2 separate regions of the Homo sapiens genome follow, and region 1 is linked to region 2. The links come from fine-mapping of genetic effects on gene expression. A gene starts in region 2. The other region holds a variant in brackets. All regions are shown on one strand. Distances are between the middles of the regions.

Region 1 (5,381 bases), 39 kb after region 2:
TCTACTTTAGAATAATTTCAAAGATCTTTAGGTAACTCAAAACCTTGTACTCATTTAATTGATGGATATCTGCTGGGTACATAAATAATTTCTAGGAAAAATGAAAGACTAAAACATGCATTATGAAGCATAATTTAAGTGTATATACTTTTTTTTTACACTTGTGGGTTTTTCGGGGTTTTTTTTGTCTTTTTTTTTCCTTTTTGTGGAGATCAGGGTTTCACTATATTGCCCAGCCAGGTCTCAAACTCCTGGGCTCAAGCTATCCTCCTGCCTCTGCCTCCCTAAGAGTTGGGATTACAGGCCTGAGCCACCACACCCGGCCTTATTTATTTATATATATTTTTTGAGACAGAGTTTCACTCTTGGTTGCCCAGGCTGGAGTACAATGGCATGATCTCGGCTCACTGCAACCTCCACCTCCCAGGTTCAAGTGATCCTCCTGCCCCCAGCCTCCCAAATAGCTGGGATTACAAGTGCCCGCCACCATGCCTGGCTAATTTTTGTATTTTTCGTAGAGATGGGGTTTCACCATTTTGACCAGGCTGGTCTTGAACTCCTGACCTCAGGTGATCCGCTCACCTCAGCCTCCCAAAGTGTTGGATTACAGGCGTGAGCCACCGCACCCGGCCTTCTGTATTTTAAGGAAAACAAAGAACTGTAGTTTTATCTTAAAGCAGCAGTTTTGTCTTAAAGTACCCAGATTTGGTTTGGGGCAGGGGGTTTGGGAGTTTTTTGTGGTTGGTTTGTTTGGTGAAACCTCTTTACACACCTCCAACATATTGAGGACACCAAAGAGCTTTCTTTGTGGATTATAGCTATTAGTATTTACTGTTAAACATTTAAACATAACTTTCTAAAAAACATTTTTTCATTCCTCTCAGCACATACCTATAAAACATACTTTTTTTTTTTTTTTGAGATGGAATCTCGCTCTGACACCCAGGCTGGAGTGCGGTGGCATGATCTTGGCTCAGTGAACCCAAGACATCCCAGGTTCAAGTGATTCTCGTGCCTCAGCCTCCTGAGTAGCTGGAACTACAGGCACCTGCCACCACATCCACCTAATTTTTATATTTTTAGTAGAGACGGGGTTTCACCATGTTGGCCGGGCTGATCTTGAACTCCTCAGGTAATCCACTCACTTTGGCCTCCCAAAGTGCTGGGATTACAGGCGTGAGCCACCATGCCCAGCTGCTATAAAACATAACTTTTAAGAAAGCTTATTTAATGATTCATTTAAAAATAGCAACAATGAATGAAGTACAATAAATATACCTCAGCAGTATTATGAAATTAGTTCTGACCTCATGGGCCCCTTGAGATTGGTCCTAAAATAAAGGGCGAGTTTACTATAGAATGCAAAAGAGCATGCTGACATGATTTTTTTTTTTTTTAGATGGCGTCTAGCTCTCTTGCCTCGGCTGGAGTACAGTGGCACTATCTTGGCTTACTGCAACCTCTGCCTCTCGTGTTCAAACAATTCTCCTTCCTCAGCCCCCTGAGTAGCTGGAAATACAGGCATGCACCACCATGCCTGGCTAATTTTTGTATTTTTAGTAGAGACAAGGGTTTCGTCATGTTGGCCAGGCTGGTCTTGAACTCCTGATCTCAGGTGATCCACCCACCTTGACCTCCCTAAGTGCTGGGATTACAGGCATGAGCCATGCGCCTGGCCTGAAGTGAATTTTATTTGCTTTGATTTATAATACCTGAGTTTGGGGGCTGGACGCAGTGGCTCACACCTGTAATCCCAGCACTTTGGGAGGCCAAGGCCAGCGAATCATTTGAGCCCAGGAGTTCCCAGTCCAGCCTAGCCAGCATGGGAAAACCTACTAAAAAATACAAAAAGTAGCCAGGTGTGGTGGTGTGTGTCTGTAAGTTCCAAACTATTCGGGAGGCTTAGGTGGGAGGATCACCTGATCCCAAGAGGCGGAGGTTGCAGTGAACAGAGATCGCACCAGTGCACTCCAGCTTGTGCGACAGAGTGAGACCCTGTCTCGATTAAATCTATATTTATATATATAATGTGTGTGTATATATATATACACACACGTAACACATTATATATATAAATAAAATACTTGATTCTGAAATATGTTAGACACTATGAAATGTTATTAAGATCTTATAGGGCCGGGCGCGGTGACTCACGCCTGTAATCCCAACACTTTAGGAGGCGGAGGCGGGCAGATCACGAGGTCAGGAGATTGAGACCATCCTGGCTAACACGGTGAAACCCCGTCTCTACTAAAAAGT[A/G]CAATAAATTAGACGGGCGTGGTGGCAGACGCCTGTAGTCCCAGCTACTCAGGAGGCTGAGGCAGGAGAATGGCGTGAACCCAGGAGGCAGAGCTTGCAGTGAAGCCGAGATCGCGCCACTGCACTCCAACCTGGGCGACAGAGGGAGACTCTGTCTCAAAAAAAAAAAAAAAAAAAAAAATCTTATAAAAGTTTGCTTTTATAAGACCATACGGTTTATCATATAATGTATAATATTTTATAATATATAATGCATATAAAACACATCATATGCATTTTAACACATGAAATTTACTAACAATCTTAAAAAATTTTGTTTAATATTCATGGCCTTGTTTCCCTAGTTTACTGTTTGTTGTCTTCACCTATACTATGAAGGGTTATTCTTTTTTTCTATGTAAATCTACCTAGATAGCAAAGATTCAGTGTTTTACCAGAATTATTTTTTGATTTTCATGTTGATTTTATTATGCCCTTGGTTATTTAAAGAAACAAGATTTGTTATTTAGGAGGGAGCTAAAGTTCTTTATGATCATGTTATTTTCTATCTTTATTTTTATTTATTTTTATTTATTTTCTTTTTTTTTTAGAGACAGAGTTTCACTCCTGTTGCTCAGGCTGGAGTGCAGTCATGTGATCTCTGCTCACTGCAATCTCAGCCTCCTGGATTCAAGTGATTCTCCTGCCTCAGCCTCCCAAGTAGCTGGGATTACAGGTGCCTGCCACCACGCCCAGCTAATTTTTTGTATTTTCAGTAGAGGTGGACTTTCACCATGTTGGTCTCAAACTCCTGACCTCAGCTGATCCATCTGCCTCGGCCTCCCAAAGTGCTGGGATTACAGGAGTGAGCCACTGCACCTGGCCTATTTTTAAATGTTGTATTGTCTCTTACAAATGGGTAGGCAAGTACTACTTCTCAGATGCCTATGATCCTACACTAAGTATTCAAATCTCCTGACAATTTTGTATTTTGCATTCCCAAAATTAGTCCTAAATGTGAAATAAAATAAAATAAAAGGAATGATAGCTGAGCTTTCCCAGACATACCATTGAAAATCACAAAAGATTTGTTACTTCCCCTTATGAAAAGAGAGGTGCCAGAAATAAATAGGTGTATTTGATATGTTACTATTGGTGAATTACACAGGAATAGATGAGATTATTTTTTATCAAAAGAGAGGGAAAGTGTAGGAAAATTTTCTTTCAATGGAAAATTAAGTATTGTCTATAGCACACCCTTTCACTTTATCTGCTTTTGATTCCATGGGAGCCATTTTACAGCTTGTAAAATGTAGATAACTGATAGAAATGAAAACTAATTCTTGGCTCTAGATCTGTACATTTAATCCTGCCAGTAGAGGTTCAATTGACTTCCCTTTCCCACCCTGGAAGAAGCTGGCTTGAGCTCTGTTGGTGAATGTGTTTCAACATTCCTTTGCTCCATATAATTGAGCTTTTCTGACTTCTCCTTTGAATTAGTTATAATCTGCCATTGGAGAGTCATGATTTTATCTTTTTTTTTTTTTTTTGAGATAGCGTCTTGCTCTGTCGCCCAGGCTTGAGTGAAGGGATGCAAGCTTGGCTCACTGAAGCCTTGACCTCCTGGGCTCAAGTGATTCTCCAAACTCAGCCCCCTGAGTAGCTAGAACTACATACATGAGCCACCATGCCTGGCTAATGACGATGATGATGATGATGATGATGATGATGATGATGATGTAGCAGGGGGTTGCACTATATTGCCCAAGCTGGTCTTGAACTCCCAGCCTTAAGCGATCTTCTCACCTCAGTTTCCCAAAATGCTGCTATTATAGGCATGAGCTGCCACTCCAGGCTGATGATTTTATCTTTTTAATAAATGAATCTTTTAACAATAAGGACAATATAAGTTAGTTCATTACAAATGATGGAAGCTTATTGCATTAGAGTTTTATTCTCCTCCTTAATCCTTGTTGCAAATACCTGGAAGGCAGTAACGGAAAGACCATTAGCTGGTATTAACCTTCAACTCTGGAATATGGCACCATCTCCTACCTTGCCCCTGGCAGTTACTTTCCTCCCCTACACTTATGCAGCCTCCTAGCTGGTTGGGGCTATACTATCTTCCCTCCCTACACCAGCAGGTGGGACTGGATCAAGAGTCCTAGGCAGAAAAGAGAGGGAGAGAGAGAGAGAGAAATCAAACTTGTGAAAAGAAGGGGGAAGCTGGGCGCGGTGGCTCACGCCTGTAATCCCAGCACTTTGGGAGGCCAAGTGGGGTGGATCATTTGAGGTTAGGAGTTCAAGACCAGCCTGGCCAACATGGTGAAACCCTGTCTTTACTAAAAATACAGAAATTAGACAGGTGTGGTGGCGCACACCTGTGATCCCAACTACTCGGGAGGCTGAGGCAGGAAAATTGCTTGAACCCAGGAGATAGAGGTGCAGTGAGCTGAGATTGCGCCATTGCACTCCAGCCTGGGCAACAGAGTGAGACTCCGTCTCAAAAAAAAAAAAGAAGAAGAGGGAATAAAAGAAAATTAAACAAGAGTCCCAGTCCTGGAAGGAAAATATCAATCCTAGTCTGGAAGGGAAGAGAAGCGGAGCAGGTTTAGAGGTTAGTCCTATTGTATTCATTTTATGGGGTCGGTGCAGCAGCTGAGTTGACATAAAGATATAAATGAGGCTTAGGGCAAGGAGATGAATATTTTAAGAAACTTTTTATTGATGGATCATGTATATACATTTTAAGAATTAAACACACCCATGAAATCAGCACCCAGACCAAATGACAGAACATTACCAGCAGCTCAGAAGCCCCCCCATTTCTCTTGCAGGAAATTGATACTGAGTTCTTGTGGCATGGATTAATTTTGCTTGGTTTGTACTTTATATCAATTGTATTATACAGCATTTTTTGAGAAAATTTCTTTCATCAATTGTATTTTCATCCATAATGTTGCATGTAGTGGTAGGTCATTCATTCTTTAGTCTGATGTCAATGGGAATTTGAGTAGTTTCCAGCTTAGGACTATTATAATAGTGCAGCTATGATCATTCTTGTTTTTCTTTTCTCTTCCTTCCTTCCTTCCTTCCTCTCTTTCTGTCTTTCTCTTTCTTTCTCTCTTTCTTTCTTTCTCTCT
Region 2 (5,381 bases):
CTACTAGAGAGAGTGTGGCAGGAGAATCACTTGAACCCAGAAGGCCAAGGTTGCAGTGAGCTGAGATTGCGCCATTGCACTACAATCTGAGCAATAGAGTGAGACTCTGTCTCAAAAAAAAAAAAAAGTTTTGGTATGGTAAAGGCTTGATCAGAACTGTACTTGAAAAAGATGATCCTGTTATTTGTCAGACAGATTCAATAAAGGGACTGCATGTGGGCTGAAGTGGCAGGAAGTAGGAAGGAGTGACTGACTCATGAGACAGTGGAGATGAAGCCATGATTTAATCTAGAAGGATTAGATATTGTATTACCCAATCAGTAGAACTCTTGACAGCTGATTAGTCTGCAATCTTTATATGATATGGGGGAAGTCAAAGCAAGGAATCTGGGTACAAGGTAGAAAGAAAGTGCTGTTCACATAGAGTAGGCCGGGCGAGGTGGCTCATACTTGTAATCCCAACACTTTGGGAGGCCGAGGCAGGCAGATCACCTGAGGTCAGGAGTTCGAGACCAGCCTGGCCAACATGGTGAAACCCCGTCTCCACAATTAGCCAAGCGTGGTGGTGCACACCTGTAATCCAAGCTACTCAGGAGGCTGAGACAGGGGAATCACTTGAAGTGGGGAGGCAGAGGTTGCAGTGAGCCGAGATCGCAACACTGCACTCCAGCCTGGGCAACAAGAGCAAAACTCCATCTCAAAAAAAAAAAAAAAAAAAAAAAAAACCACAGACAGGGTAGCCTTGGTGAGGATGGACTCTGTGGATAATGATAATGGACTTCTTGTCTTTGAGGTGTGAGTAATCTTTGGTAAAGGTGACCAACTGGGAAGAGGTGAGGGCTGAAGAGATTATTTTAGTCAGCTGAAGGTGAAAATTGAATCTGATAGGTACTGAAAACACAAAGAAGATAATAAGCAAAACTTATTCTAGGAGAGAAGAAAGAAAAGGAAAGCTGAGAAAACAAGGAGTTATTCAGAAGGAGGAGAAGAATAAAGAGGGTGGTGTGATCAAGGATGATAAGGACTAAGAAAACACCAATTGTTACAATTGTTACTGTTAATCTTGATATTCAAGAGCACTGTGGTCTACCTGGGAAATGGATTTCCTCACATATTCTGAAATTCATTCTTTAAGACTTTATATCCCAAGATACTCACGTAAAAAATGAGGAAAGAGAACCTTGGTTGGTTCCAGAGTGCCCTCTCTGGAACTGGAACACTCAGCTGCCAATTGTTTTCCAGTATTCCTCACCCACTTGGGCATGACAGGACCCTGTGCTGTTTCTTCTTCTTTGAAATAAGGACAATAGTTTACTGCCTAGGATTGTTTTAAGAATTAAATTAGTTAATTATTGTATAGTACTTAGAACAATGCCTTGAACATAGTAGGTGTTCAATAAATACCAGCTACAGTATAGTAACTTTTTTTTTTTTTTTTTGACGGAGTCTCACTCTATAGCCCAAGCTGAAGTGCAGTGATTGGATCTCGGCTCACTGCAACCTCCGCCTCCGGTGCTCAAGCAATTCTCGTGCCTCAGCCTCCCAAGTAGTTGGGACTATAGACACGCGCCACCACCCCCAGCTAATTTTTTGTATTTTAGTAGAGACAGGGTTTCACCATGTTCTCCAGGGTGGTCTCGAACTCCTGAGCGATCCACCCACCTCGGCCTCCAAAAGTGCCAGGATTATAGGCTTGAGCCACTGCGCTTGGCCAGTAACCCATTTTTAAGGCCCAGGTGAAATAGTTTTTCTATTTCTATGATTTTCTATTTCTATGATTAAATAGTGTTTAATCAGACACTTCAGCTGCATATACCTCCCACAGCTCATTGATGATACAACAGTTCGCACAGGGCCTGGCACACATGCTAAAGGCTCAGCAGTATTGATAATCACCCACACTTACAAAGCACTATGGGCCAGACACTGCTGTGCTTTCTTTACAGATATCAACTCATTTAACCCACCCTAAAAACCCTGAGGTTCCCAAAACTGGCATATCCTCATGTTACAGATACAGAAACTAAGACACAGCCGGGCTAAGTAATTAATCTAAGCTTACACAAATAGCCGAGACAGAGCCAGGACTTAAATCCAGGCAGCCTGTTTCACAGTCCCTGCTCATAACCATGGTGCTGTATAGTTCCAAACATCTTAACTAATGAGGACAGCATTATTTCTCAAGGTGCACAGCACAGAGAACTTCAAAAATTAGACTCTTAGTAAAACACCATCTTTTTTTTTTTTTTTTGAGACAGGGTCTTGCTGTGTTGCCCAGGCTGGAGTGCAGTGGCGTGATCTGGGCCCACTGCAACCTGCACCTCTCAGGTTCAAGAGAGTCTTGTCTCAGCCTCTGGAGTTGCTGGGACTACAGGCAGGCACCACCGCGCCCAGCAAATTTTTTGTATTTTTAGTACAGACGGGGTTTCACCATGTTGACCACGCTGGTCTCAAACTCCTGACCTCAAGTGATCTGCCCGACTCGGCCTCCCAAATTGCTGGAATTTATTCCAACACCTCATTCATTCATTCATTCATTCGAGACAGAGTCTAGCTATGTTACCCGGGCTGGTCTCAAACTCCTGGGCTCAAGGGATCTTTCTACCTCAGCCTCCCAACGTGCTGAGATTACAGGGACACGCCACCGCGCCAGCCCGAACATCTTTATCTTAAACCCAGAAAAGTGACAGGAGTGTCTCCCCTACAAGATGATGACCAGCCCTCCAGACCTGAGCCCAGGTGTGATTCCAAGGCCCCTGTACTGGGGCCAGACAGGGAGACTCGCTCTCAGGGACTTCCCAACCAGCACCATCTTCTCCCTGCGGGGATGGCGAGGGAGCGCGGGCCGGCCCCGGCCCTGCCTCCGCGCTCGCGCTCGACGGTGTCCTGAAGCGCGCTCCCGGGGAGGTGTTGCAGCCATGGCTACGGCAGCCGGCGCGACCTACTTTCAGCGAGGCAGTCTGTTCTGGTTCACAGTCATCACCCTCAGCTTTGGCTACTACACAGTAAGGACAGCCGCTGGAGCGCTACGGTCTGACGAACGAGCGAGCGCTCGGTTCACCCCAGGACCTGGGCTCACAGGCCGCGGGCCGGGGGAAGTCGTGCAAGCACAATCCCGACTCCCGCGCGCTAGGAGCGGAGGGGAGGGGACCAGACTCCGCAATGAGAGCAAGCATACTGGTCCGCCAGGGTCTTGGGCGGGCGCCCAGGGCCCTGAGAAACCGGCTAGCCAGGCTTTTCTTATATGGGGGCGGGGACGGCTGGGGAGCTCCCAGCCAACTCTGTGTCTGGGTTTTTCAAGAGGATGGTGAAGTCGGAGGCCAGCAATGCGGCTACCGCCTATTTCCGTCCAGCAAGACCCTTGCCCTCTCTGGTCACAGTCCTGGGGCTGGGCTACTTCGCGGTGAGGCGTGGGGTGGGGCGGGGCGGGCCTCTGTTTTGGCCCGCCGGGCCCTCGTAGGGCGAGGGGAGCTCTGGGAACGGGGCCTGTGCGCACGCGCATCTGACGGTTGTCTCGGTTACTCATGTAAGCGGAAATTCGGTGGGCTCTTAGGATAGTTTCTGCTTTCTAGTGTTCCTGTCTTTGGGTCCTCACCTCTGCATGGTTACTAACGGGTTATCCGAGCCTAAGCCTCTCACGAAGCGGAAAGTCAAGTTAACAGACTGCCATAGGCCTGCCAAGTCAGAATAGGGCTTCCGAAGCAGAATGTTTGAGCCAATAGGAATTGTTTGGAAAACGGGGATAAATCTAAAGGATGGGTAGGATTTAAGTGGTAAGGGAGGATAAAGAGGCTATAACTGTTCTGACATAGGTGTGGAAGCAAGAAGAAAGCTGTACCTAGAAAAAGAGCGACGTTTGTTTGGCTGAGAAATAATCTGTTTAAAGGATAACGAGAAAGATGCGTGGAAAAGTAGGTTGGGGGCTAAGGTGGTAGTTTTGTGTTTTTTTGAGACGGAGTCTCGCTCTGTCACCCAGGCTGGAGTGCAGTGGGGCGATCTCGGCTCACTGCAACCTCTGCTTCCCAGGTTCAAGCGATTCTCATGTCTTTACCTGTAGCTGGGATTACACTATGCCCAGCTATTTTTTTGTGTTTTTAGTAGACATGGGTATTGGTGAGGCTGGCCTCGAACTCCTAACGTCAAGTGATAAGGTGGTAAAATTTTGAAGGAAGGCGAAGCTATTTGGGTATACCAATAGATCCTGGAGATTGGAGATTTGTCTTGTCCACAGTGTTGTTTGTTGGTGTCAAATCTGACAACCTATGTCCTGATTTCCCCATATGTACAATGGAGGTGTTGAACTGAAAATTTTCAAAGGTGCATTTCTGTTCTACGATTTAGTGTCTGTGACTAGTTAGAATATAGTTGGAGGAAAGCTTTGGGGACTTCAAATTGGGATCTTGTGGAGCTGGCAGATGCTCCCCTTTCCCTTTGGTTTGGGAGGATGCAGTGATATTTGTGCATTATTTAACTTTCAGATGTGAAACAACATCGTGAGAGAGGTAGTACTGCTCTTGACAAAGATTTGAATGGGACAATACATTTTGAAACTGTTGAGTTATTCTCAGAAAAGTCTTAGCTGACAGAAGTTACAATACAGAGGCTGAAAGTTAAGATTACGAAAAATTTATGTGATTAAGCAGTTGCTATTAAAATGTCACAACCTTATCTCACTTATTTTCCATCTCTATGCAGTGGATCATTCTCAGTTTTAGCCGTACAAAAAGGGAAAGCCGAGAAAGGAATTCTAAATTAAACAGAGGTTTGGCTGGAGCCAGTTTCTGCAGTAAAGAAACTAGCCAAAGCACATAAACTCAAAATTTGCTAATATCTTTTATAAAATAATGGTTTTGGTGGAATGTATTAATAGGAGTCAGCCAGGCATGGTGGTTCACCCCTGTAATCCCAGCACTTTGGGAGGCCGAGGCGGGCAAATCGCTTGAGCCCAGGAGTTCGAGACCATCCTGGGCAACATGGCAAAACCTCATCTCTACACACACACACACACACAAAATTAGCCATGGGCAGTGGCTCACACCTGTAATCCCAGCACTTTGAGAAGCCGAGAAGGGCGGATCACCTGATGTCAGGAGTTGGAGATCAGCCTGGCCAACATGGTGAAACTCTGTCTGTATTAAAAATACAAAAATTAGCTGGGCGTGGTGGCATGCACCTGTAGTCCCAGCTACTCTGGAGGCTGAGACAGGAGAGTCGTTTGAATCCGCGAGGCGGAGGTTACAGAGAGCCGAGATCGTGCCACTGCACTCCAGCCTAAGCGACAGAGTGAAACTCCATCTAAAATAAATAAATAAATAAATAAATTAGTCAGTCGTGGTAGCCATGCCTGTATTCCAGCTACTTGGGGAAGCTGAGTTGGGAGG

The links. PIP is the estimated chance that this variant, and not a neighbour inherited with it, causes the effect.
Region 1: its variant is the best candidate, but not a certain one, in a credible set for the expression of TMEM254 in whole blood (TOPMed, PIP 0.70).

The regions. Positions count from the first base shown.
Region 1 is chr10:80,114,921-80,120,301 of GRCh38, forward strand. No RefSeq gene overlaps it. Among named protein-coding and RNA genes, the nearest start is that of PLAC9, 15 kb to the right of the region's middle. The variant A/G (reference allele first, on the strand shown) is at 2,260.
Region 2 is chr10:80,075,782-80,081,162 of GRCh38, forward strand. It overlaps TMEM254 (transmembrane protein 254), which reads left to right and starts at 2,884. Exons shown (of 4, transcript NM_025125.4): 1 at 2,884-3,005. The coding sequence starts at 2,919. TMEM254-AS1 (TMEM254 antisense RNA 1) reads right to left here and starts at 3,412. Exons shown (of 4, transcript NR_027432.1): 1 at 2,946-3,412.